Linked DNA regions of Homo sapiens: region 2 is reported to be linked to region 1. Evidence: microRNA targets listed by miRTarBase, many of them from high-throughput screens and not tested one by one. Region 1 holds a microRNA gene; the other region holds the end of a gene's coding sequence.

The links. The annotated mature microRNA hsa-miR-4743-3p reads UUUCUGUCUUUUCUGGUCCAG and lies in region 1 at 2,561-2,581, shown strand. An mRNA with a match to its seed (bases 2 to 7 or 8) in the 3' UTR can be bound and repressed. Matches are read on the target gene's strand: a 7mer-m8 pairs with bases 2 to 8, a 7mer-A1 pairs with bases 2 to 7 and ends in A, and an 8mer does both.
Region 2: the mRNA of TNNC1 is a reported target of hsa-miR-4743-3p. The part of its 3' UTR that is shown has no 7-base or 8-base seed match.

What each region holds. Positions count from the first base shown.
Region 1 is chr18:48,668,088-48,673,259 of GRCh38, forward strand. It overlaps MIR4743 (microRNA 4743), which reads left to right and starts at 2,513; the gene lies at 2,513-2,581. It overlaps CTIF (cap binding complex dependent translation initiation factor), which reads left to right. Exons shown (of 12, transcript NM_014772.3): 6 at 2,582-2,657.
Region 2 is chr3:52,446,734-52,451,733 of GRCh38, forward strand. TNNC1 (troponin C1, slow skeletal and cardiac type) reads right to left here. Exons shown (of 6, transcript NM_003280.3): 5 at 4,658-4,794; 6 at 4,367-4,573. The coding sequence ends at 4,542. Among named protein-coding and RNA genes, the nearest start is that of SEMA3G, 4.1 kb to the left of the region's middle. RefSeq lists a silencer at 3,280-3,574.

The DNA of each region.
Region 1 (5,172 bases):
GCAGGCCTCTGGGGAGATCTGAGCCCTGACGAGGGCAGGCCTCGTGGGACAGCAGCCCTCCCTGCAGGCCTCCACCTGCCCACCCCCAGGGGCGCTGAGGCGAGAACAGAAAGCTGTGTTTGGAGTGTGCTAGGCTGGTGCCCAGCGTGTGCTTGGAGCTCAGTGCATGCGAGAGAGTCCTGAGGTGTGTTTTACCCACAGGAGACACTGGGGAGGTGGTATCAGCCATTCTAGTCAAGCCAAGTCCCCAGTGCCCTCCTCCCCTATGGCCCAGGCGGGTGCAGAACACAGAAGACTACACGCAGTTGGTGCTTTCACAGGCCAGCCTGTCTGCACCAGGCAGATTGATGAGTTAAGAGATGTTTGGATGTTCCGGGCCTTTCTCCACCTGCTCACCTGTAGCCCCAGCACATCACAGTTGTGGGGACAGCCGGGGGCCGGGGGAAACTTTTTCTTTTCCTTCATGCCTGTTATACCTTGCACACCATTCCCCACCCCAGCTCCACCATGCCCCTTGCCTACCCCTTGCACCCTGACCCCTAACATGCTCTAGCCACAGCAAACTGGCACCACACATGCTCCTAACTCTAGGCCTTTGCCTGCGCCGTGTCAGCCTGGGACATCCTCCCAAATTCCCTGTGCTTGGCCAGCTCACCTCTCACCTTCCTCCTGCCCCTCGCCCAAGACAGTTCTAGACGCTGCTCCTTGGGGTTCCTGCAACGATCCCTTGTCCCCAGCGGGGCACTTGCTGCTCTACTGTGGGGGGTGATTATCCCGCCAGACACCGAGAGGGGCAGTTGTGTGCACTGTTTACACCTGGGTCCCAGACCCTGTCCAGAGCCGGGCACAGAAGTGTTTGGTGAATGGAGAAATGAGCCATCAAATGGGGCTTGGGTTAGCCCCCTGTTCTCTTCCACCCAGGCCTTTGCTGGTGTTTGCAGCTAGTTTCTCCTCCTCTGGGTTCCAGGGCGCCTCTGGCCATAGGACTTTTATGACACCGATCTCGTGCTGCCCCCAGTGGTGCTCCGGCACCCAGCCCTGTTAGAGGAGTTTAGGATTTGTTCTAAGGGCCATCCACTGTCTGAGGGCAGGAACCAAAACTGATTTTTTTTTTGGTTCACAAGGCCCAAAACAGAAGAGATGCTTGGTAAATGTTTAAACAATGAACTAGTTACTCTGAAAGGTGAGATTCGTATGAACTCTGCAGCTGGAAAATGACCCAACTCATGGGACATCTCTCACCATTCCTCAGTCAATACCAGTAATAATAGTAACTGACAATACTTACTATGCACCGGCCATGCTCCAGCCTCTGTTCTAAGTGTTTGCCTCATTTATTTAAAACTCGCCACCACCCAGAGAGGGAGGAACTGTTACCATCTTCTCTTCAATAGATGAAGCAACTAGGAGACCCAGAAATTGAGTAATTTGCATGAGGCTGGGTTGGCTCCAGAATCTGTGTCCTTAATTAATCACCCTCCTGCCTCTTTGCCTAAACAACAGCAACAATATTAGTGGTAATGAAAGTAGTCATAGTAGTAGCAATATATTTACTTCATTATTTATTTTAATTTTGTTATTATTACCAGTATTTACCATTAAACATATGTGTGTATGTTTAAGATATATTTAATGGTAAATACAGATAATAATACATACACAAGAAATATACACACACACATTTATAAACAAACAAGCTAAACATTTATATATATATATATATATATATATATATATATATATATATATATATAAGCTAGACTATATATGTGTGTATATATGTACCGTTTACTGTGGGCTGTCACAGTTCTAAGCATCTAAGCACTCCAGATACATTCATTAATTTAATCCTCCAGCCACCTTAAGATGTTAGACACTATTATCCTCATTTAACAAATGAGGAAACTCATTTGATGAAATGAGTACAGAGAGGTTAAACAACTTGTACAGGGTCCCCAGTTGGTAAGGGATGCAGCGGGGATTCAAACCCTGGGAGTCTGGTTTCGGAATCTGCACCCTTAAATATGCCAAAGATTCAGACCTCTGGCCAGGGAGTTGGGGCCAGCCTCTCTGGCCCGAGGGCACGCCCACTCACAGAGGACATGAAGACAAAGCATAGACTATCTGAGTGGGCTTGCTGGACTGACCCAGAGTCAAGCCAAAAAGGAAGGAAGCCCTATTGGGTTTTCTGCTAGCCCCTGCCAGCCTATGTGACCTTGAGAAAGTTGCTTGGTGTCTCTGTCCACTGATCTTCTGTTCAGTGTAATGGGGCAAGGTGGATGGGCTTTGACAGGAGTTGTGATGAGTAAGGAGCTTAGCTTCTCTGCCTGGAAGGAGCAAGGGGAACTCTGGTTCCTCTCCCACCTCCCTCCAGGTTGGCTGTTGCATTACGGGAGGACCCCCCCCCCACACACACACAGCTTCTCTAGGGCTGTTTCCTCTAGGTGGGACAGCCCCTGCAGGGCTTGAGGGTGGGCAGCACCAGGTATCTGCTGACTGTCCCTCCTCTCCTGCTGGCCGGATGGGACAGGAGGCATGAATGAGCCATCTTTCCAATGCCTTTCTGTCTTTTCTGGTCCAGGTGTGGCAAAGGGAAGCTGGAAGATGGGGATGGCATCAACCTGAATGACATCGAGAAGGTCCTTCCAGCCTGGCAGGTAGGTGCAGGGGCAGGCTCTCTAACAGCCCACCCCCACCCCTGGAGTCCTGATCCTCTTCCTGGACAGGACCTAACCAAAGCACTCCTTCTGGCTGCTTGTTCCAGCAAGGAGTGTAACCGCCTGTATGGTAGTAATAGGCAGGGCTGGCTACCTGCCATTCTCCAGGGTGTCCCATTGTGATCGTGTGTGTGACAGCCTACTCGGTGATGCTGCAGGCCCTGCTGGCAGGCCTGATGTGCCCTAGAGATGAAATAGACCATGCCCTGGCAACTCAGTGAACTTGGAAGTTTTTGTCCCTTGGCCTGAAACCTCTCTGCAGGTGAAGTGTCCTGTGGTGTGTTCAGGTGGGACTGGCAGGCCTGGAAGAGATTCTAATGTGGCTGGGGCTGTCTTTAGGCTTTTGAACAGTGGACTTGCCCTGCTGGCCTCCAGGTGTCTGCTATGCTTGCTCTTTTTTTTATTGATTGGGCCTCTTTCCTGGAATCAGGCCAGGTTCCAGGACAAAGAGGATTCACTCAGTGAATCCAGGTCTCTAGATACTTATAGTGCTGGACTTTTGGTGGAAACAGCAGGAGTCTAGCTGCTCTCAGGAGTGTGACTGGGCCTGCTGCAGGGGTGTAAAAGCAGTGGACCTTCCACAGTGACTGAGTCTGCCGCTGCCAGTGACCATGACCTACCACCACACTCCACTGTGCCACCCTTCCCTTCTCTCCTGATTCTTCTCCTGCTATTTTATCTATATCCATTCATCTCTTCCTGGTGCCTTTGCCATTTTGTTTCTTCTCTGTTCATGCCTTGGGCCTATCAATGAGAGACAATAGAGCATACAGTTAAGACCTCATCTATTTGATTATGATGTGCCTTGGTGTGGTGGTTTTCTTCATGTTTCTCCCACTTGGGATTTATTGAGTTTCTTGGATCTGTAGGTTTATAGTTTCATCAAATTTGGAAAATTTTCAGCCACGATTCCTCCTACTTTCCCTCAACCCTGGGGTTCCAATTGTATGTATTCTATGCTTCTTCATCTTTTCCCATGGCTCACCAAAGCTCTGCCTGATTTTTTAAAGTCTTTCTTTACTCTCTGTGTTTCATTTTGGATAGCTTTTATTGCTATTTCTTCAAGTTCACTAATATTTTATTCCAGTGTCAAATCTACTGTTAATCCCATTCAGTATATTTTTCATTTCAGACATTGTAGTTTTTATCTCTCGAAGGTCATTGTGGGCTTTTTTAATAAGCCACTGTGTCCAGCTAGAATCTGCATTTTTAAAGCATTGTAGGAAATTCTGATTATCAGCAAGAGTTGAAAACTTAAAGTCCTGGCTGATAATGCTCCTGGCTTGACTGCTCCTTGGAGTATCTACAATTCACATGGGTACCCTTAGGACAAGGTAGACAGGCTTCTTGATCCCCAAACACAGACTTTTGGTGTTTGAGGAATTTGCGGTCCTGTGAGAGCACAATGGGATGACTTATCTGAGTTTTCCTAGTGTTCTTCAAAGCCCCTCATAAATAGGGCTGGCTGGTTCACTCGTCTGGCCTTGGGTCCTGAGGGTCAGCTGGCCTAGCTATTAGCATATGTGGTGGGGACAACTCTTAATAGTATGGACGTGTCCAATGCAATGTGGGATATTTAGGACTCCTGGCCTCTGCCACTGAATGGCCGTCACTGGAGAGGGGCAGGCATAGTGACCACCAAAAACATCCTCCTACTTCCAGATTCACCTAGGAGATATTGTGCATCCAGCTGAAGGCCCCCAAATGGGAGGGAAAGCCCACCTCTAGCCTGAGGACCTCCAGCCCTCCTATGGGAGTCTTGAGCCTGTACATAGATAAGCGGGCTTCCTAGAGACTTTCTTAGACAAAAATCAGGGCTGGCCTCCCCTCCCTACCTGGAGGCAAGAAGGAAAGAGGGTGACAAAGGGAGGTTGGCCTCAAGCCCATTGCCTACCTGCCCTCCACTTCTGCACCCCAGAAGAAGAGGGGCATAAAGATCCTACCAGCTGTGTCCCCAGCATGTTCTCAACCCACAGAGGCCCAGACCCCCATCTCCGGCCCCTTCTGTCCCTGTTCGGACTCCTTAGCAGGCAGGAGGCTTTGTGATGTTCTCAGCACCCTTGCCCAGCCTCTGTCCTGGGCTCCCCCTGCCATCCTGTGGCCCTGTCAGTCCCTCCCCTGATCTGTTCTGATCTTCCATCTCTCCTTGCTTTCTCACCAGCAGGCGGTTCCCTCTGCCTAAAATCTCACTCAGCCCTTCTCTGCCTGTCCTTTTTCTGGCTCAGGATACCTCCCCTGATCCCTCTCAGATGCACAGGATGGAGTCCAGCATCCACCTGCCATTTCCCCAGAGCCCCTGCCCCCATCTCTGTGGCATGGCTCCCACCACGTCGCACCTGCTTACATAACTGCCAGACTCCCTTCCTGGACTCTGGGCTGCCTGAGGGCTGGGCCATTTCCTTCAGCCTCATAACCCCAGCACCAGGTGCTCTAGAGTGAGTGCTGCTGAAGAACC
Region 2 (5,000 bases), not on the chromosome of region 1:
ACTGCTTCTGTCTCTGTTTCCCTGGGGAGGTGTGGCCAGCACACTGCCCAAGCTGGGGCCAACTTCTAACTGGAGACTGAGCTAGGCAGCCCTTCAGCCAGCATGTGACCACCAGCGGCGGGCAGGAGGCCCAACACTCCTCAGCCTGCCAGCCCATCCTGGGGTCTCAGCTCAGCCAGACACCCAGCAGGGGCTGCAGGGAAGCCTGGGTCGACTGGGGAAGGGTGTGGGGGCAGCCTACTCCACACTGCGGAAAGAGCCTGTGGCAGGCTGGGAGTCCGAACTCTACTGTTAATGTGTGTGGCCTCAGTCAGGTCCTCTCCTTCTCTGGGCTTCAGTTTTCCAGGCCTGGGGGCAGAGGGTAGGGATCGTCTCTAAAGGCCCCCCTGCTTGCCAGCTGCAGGTGGGAAAGACCACAAGGGTGCTCCGAATTCGAGGATCAATGGGCCCAGACACGGGCATCGTGTGTCATCTAGTGGACAAAGAAGGAACTGCAGGAGGCCCCCAAACTCGCTGTGTCAGGCCCTGTGTTGGGGTAGCAGGGCCACCCAGCAGAAACAGCAGCCTCTTGAGGACGCTAGCAGTAACCAGGCAAACACAATATAAAGAAGCAGGAGCAGTGGAAGATGCTCCAGTGATTGCTCTTGATGGAGGAAATCAAGGGAGGCTTCATGGAGGAAGCACTATCCAAGCAAAAGCCCAGAAATGGAAAGGATGCAGCAAAACAGGCAAAACTAGGTGATGCATGAAGGATACAAAATGCCATGTACTGGTGGGAGATGGTGAGCTGGGCTGATACCTATGTGAAGTGCGTGTTCATGCAGCAGGTGCCACCAGGTGGATATGTGGAGGGTCACAGCCCAGCCTCTCCCAGCCAGAATTCTGGGGTGGGCATGCCTGGAAGGAATGGATGCCCCCAGTCCCCTCCCCACCAATTTCATGGATGGAACAGGGATATTAGGACAATGCCATGCCCCCTCCACCCCCACGGACCTCCAGCTGCTTGCAGAGGGTGAGCCCCCCCACTTCCCATCAGCCATCCCTCACAGCTCCTCCCGCCCCACCCCAACCCTCCTACAGTATCTTCTGGGGCTTCCATCTGCAAGCAGGGCCATTCATCTCCTCCTCCTGTCCCAGGACCTGTCCCCCTCCCCACCACAGCTGATGAAAAGAGAGCCAGGACGTGGCAGAGCCCTCCTTCCCCCACTGCCCCTTCCTGACAATCCTCACTCCCTTCAACCCGAGCACACGTGGCCCTTGTCTGAGCTTCCCTGGACCCCATATCGCTTCTCAGCTTGGGTCCCTTTCTCTGTTCCCTGGGTGTTGCCCACACCCACCATCTCCCCTGTACTTCAGCTCACTCCTGTCAGGCTCCCACCCCTCTGCTCCACGGAAACCCTCCTGCTCAGGCGGCTGAGGCCTGGGGGCCTGCAAGTTCCCAAACCCTGGGGCCACCAGACAAACCCAAAGTGAGTGAGATTCTACAGAATAACTGGCCTCAGCTCTTCAGAGGTGATGAGGAAACACTGAGGACCGTCACAGGCTGGTGGGGAGTAAGGAGACAGGAGGACGAGGTCACGTTAGTGCCATCTTGGATTGGTTCCTGCTCCAGGACAAGGACTTTAGGACAACTGACAGAACTTCAATAAGCTGTGCAGATTAATTAGCAGTGTTTATGTCAATATTCATTTCCTGTGTTTGATCCTTCTGTGGTTAAAATGTTAACATTTAGGGAAGCTAGGGTACCTGTAAATGGGAGTTCTTTGTACTATTTTTGCAAGCCTGGAATTTCAAAATGAAAAGAAAAAAAGCAAAAAACCCCACTAAAACCTAGTGTTGGGAAGTAAGCTCCACTTCCCAATACCCCACGGCTGAACCTGTGTCTCCTCCCAGCTTCCATATCTCAGGAAATGGCAGTTTGGCCAAAAAGCTAAGGGTCATTTTGGATTTTCTTATTTCTCACCCTTCACATTCAAGCCTTCAGCAAACTCTGTCCATTCTAGTTCCAAAATGTGCCTTGAATCCATGTACCCCTGCCCACTCTCCCCAGCACCCCACTGTACTGGAAGCCACCGGGCTTTCTTGCCCAAAGCCTGCCGCCACTTCAGGCCAGCTCCTAGCTCCGTCTCTCCCACCCCTTTTGCCCTCTGCAGCCATCACCCCTTACATTGACTGGGTCCTCATGGGGCCTGGCACTGCCCATGTCTCCCAAGACTGCTGGGGCTTGGTTTCCAGCCCAACACTGCCTTTCTGCTCCTGAGACCTTCCCAGTCTTTCTCCATGGCCTCCCATGGCTGGTTCCCTGTGGTTCCCCCAGATCTCATGCAGAGTCAGCTCCTCTAGGGAGCTTTCCCAGACCACTGTAACTCATGGGCCCACCATGCCTCCAGTCCCCACTCCAGCCCACGCTGGCTTTCCCACTGTACTCATCTCCTTAAAATTCCACCAGATTAGGCCGGGCACGGTGGCTCACACCTGTAATCCCAGCACTTCGGGAGGCCAAGGTGGGCGAATCACTTGAGCTCAGGAGGTCAAGTCTAGCCTGGGAAACATGGTGAAACCTTGTCTCTACTAAAAATACAAATATTAGCCGGGTGTGGTGGCAGGTGCCTGTAATCCCAGCTACTTGGGTGGCTGAGGCACGAGGATCGCTTGAACCTGGGAGGCAGGGGTTACAGTGAGCCGAGATTGTGCCACTGCGCTCCAGTCTGGTGACACAGCGAGACTCTGTCTCAAAAAAAGAAAAAGGCCGGGCGCGGTGGCTCACGCCTGTAATCCTAGCACTTTGGAAGGCCGAGGCAGGTGGATCACGAGGTCAGGAGATTGAGACCATCCTGGCTAACACGGTGAAACCCCATCTCTAGTAAAAATACAAAAAATTAGCTGGGTGTGGTGGCGGGCGCCTGTAGTCCCAGCTACTCAGGAGGCTGAGGCAGGAGAATGGCGTGAATCTGGGAGGCAGAGCTTGCAGTGAGCTGAGATCGCACCACTGCACTCCAGCCTGGGTGACAGAGTGAGACTCCGTCTCAAAAAAAAAGAAAAAAAAAATCCACCAGATTAGGGACTGGGCCTCACTGTGACATGCCCCAGGATCCAGCCCTGTGCTGTGCGCGTGGTGGGTGTGTGAGTGAACCACTGGGTGGTGCACCGGCTGCTGGTGCTGCCCGATGTGGCGCTTCCTTTTATCCTCGGATGTCACCCTTCCTGGGTCACTCTGGGTGTCTGTAGAGGTCCCCAATTCTCCAGCTCACAAGGGCAGGCCTGAAGGGACTCCTCTCTGCTCCCCTCAGGTCTCTCCAGGGACCAGAAAGCTCTTGCTAGCGCTGGCCTCCATCAGAGGCATTTTTAGAATTCCAAGACCATCTCTGGAATGCCAGGCCTGTCTGGGGAATGCCAAGGCTGGGGCACAGGTGCAGAGAGAGTGGAGTGGCTGGGCGGGGCAAGGTCAGCTGACGGCATTCTGGCTACAGCCTGGGTGCTGCTGGCAGCTGTCCCTCCTGCGAACACCTCTGCTGACACTTCCACTTCCTTGCAGCCCCCAACGCCCACGCCTCCAAGACAGCATCACTGTCTGGCGGCAGCTCTGGACTGGGTGCTCCCACTAAGCTGAGAGCTGCCAGGCCTTGGGCCTCCATCCCTGCCAGGGAGAGAGACTGGGCCACAAGAGATGAGCCTCTGAGGTTCACGGGAACTGGAAATCATGTCCATTTGGATGTGGCCCATCCGACAGGGCCCTTGGCTGGAAGCCAGTTGGCTCTGCTCTCCCCCACACTCACTGGATGACCTTGACAGGTCCCTGCACCTCTCTGGGCCAAACAGGTGAGGGGAGATAGAGCCGACTCCATGCCCCTCTGTCCCTGGGAGTCAATGTTGCTGGCAGGAAATACAAGCAAGTGGGCGGGTGGACTAGCACTGTGAGCCTGCAGGGACCCCACAGGCTCAGCTCCATTCCAGCCACGGCTGAGAGGTAACAGGGGTTGCTGTGCCAGGGAGCATCCAAGGGCCTGGCTGTGTACCACAGTGAACCACTCTCTCCAAGTAGAGGACCCCTAGGCTGCCACAGTGGTTGACCAAAGTGATGGCCCCCAGGAACTTGTGGGGGTTCTAGGCCCCCACAGACTCCAGATGCTGAATCCCTAGAGATGGTGCCTGGGCCTGAGGAGTGATAGAGGGCAGCAAGCAGGGCAGGCCACACGGCAGTCTCCGATCTCATCTCACCCCCCTGCAGAAGGCAGTGTGGAGCGGTGGTCAGGCGCCAGGCTCTGCAGCCAGCCTGCCTAGGACAGGGAAGGAAGCGGCCATTGGGTAAGAGTGGGTCCTGGGGATGAGTCCACGGCCCAGGGACACCAGAGCCAGATAGCAGACCTTGGGAGAGCAGGCTTTATTTGCATCCCCCAGGACAGATCTGGGGAGGGAGTCGGGGGATTTGGGGTTGAGGACATGGCCAGGCTCAGGTCCTGGGACCCCGACCCCCTCCCCAACCCCAGGACTCAGCTGGAGTTGGAGGCTGGGCATAGGCAGCTCTGGGTGAAGGTCAGCATCTACTCCACACCCTTCATGAACTCCAGGAACTCTGTGGAAAGAGGGGCAGGTGTGGGTTGAGGGTAGGGGCTGGGCAGGGCATGGAGGCAGGAGATCAGCCCACCCACCCGCTTACCATCATAGTCGATGCGGCCGTCGTTGTTCTTGTCTCCGTCCTTCATGAGCTCCTCGATGTCGTCCTCCGTGATGGTCTCGCCTGTAGCCTGCAGCATTATCTTCAGCTCATCCAGGTCGATGTAGCCATCAGCATTTCTGTGGGGAGGGGGCTCAGGGTAGGGCTGTGGGGAGGGCATGAGGCAGCCCCACCCATGCCCCAGGAGGCAGAGCAGGGACACTGGGAGATGGGGCATCCCTCTCCCCTATCAGGCAGAGGCCACAGGGTCCCTAGGCCTGGAATCTGAGACTGCCCTCCTGTACAGCTCGGCTTGAGTGTGGGTCAGGGTCAGAGGTCAAGGGTC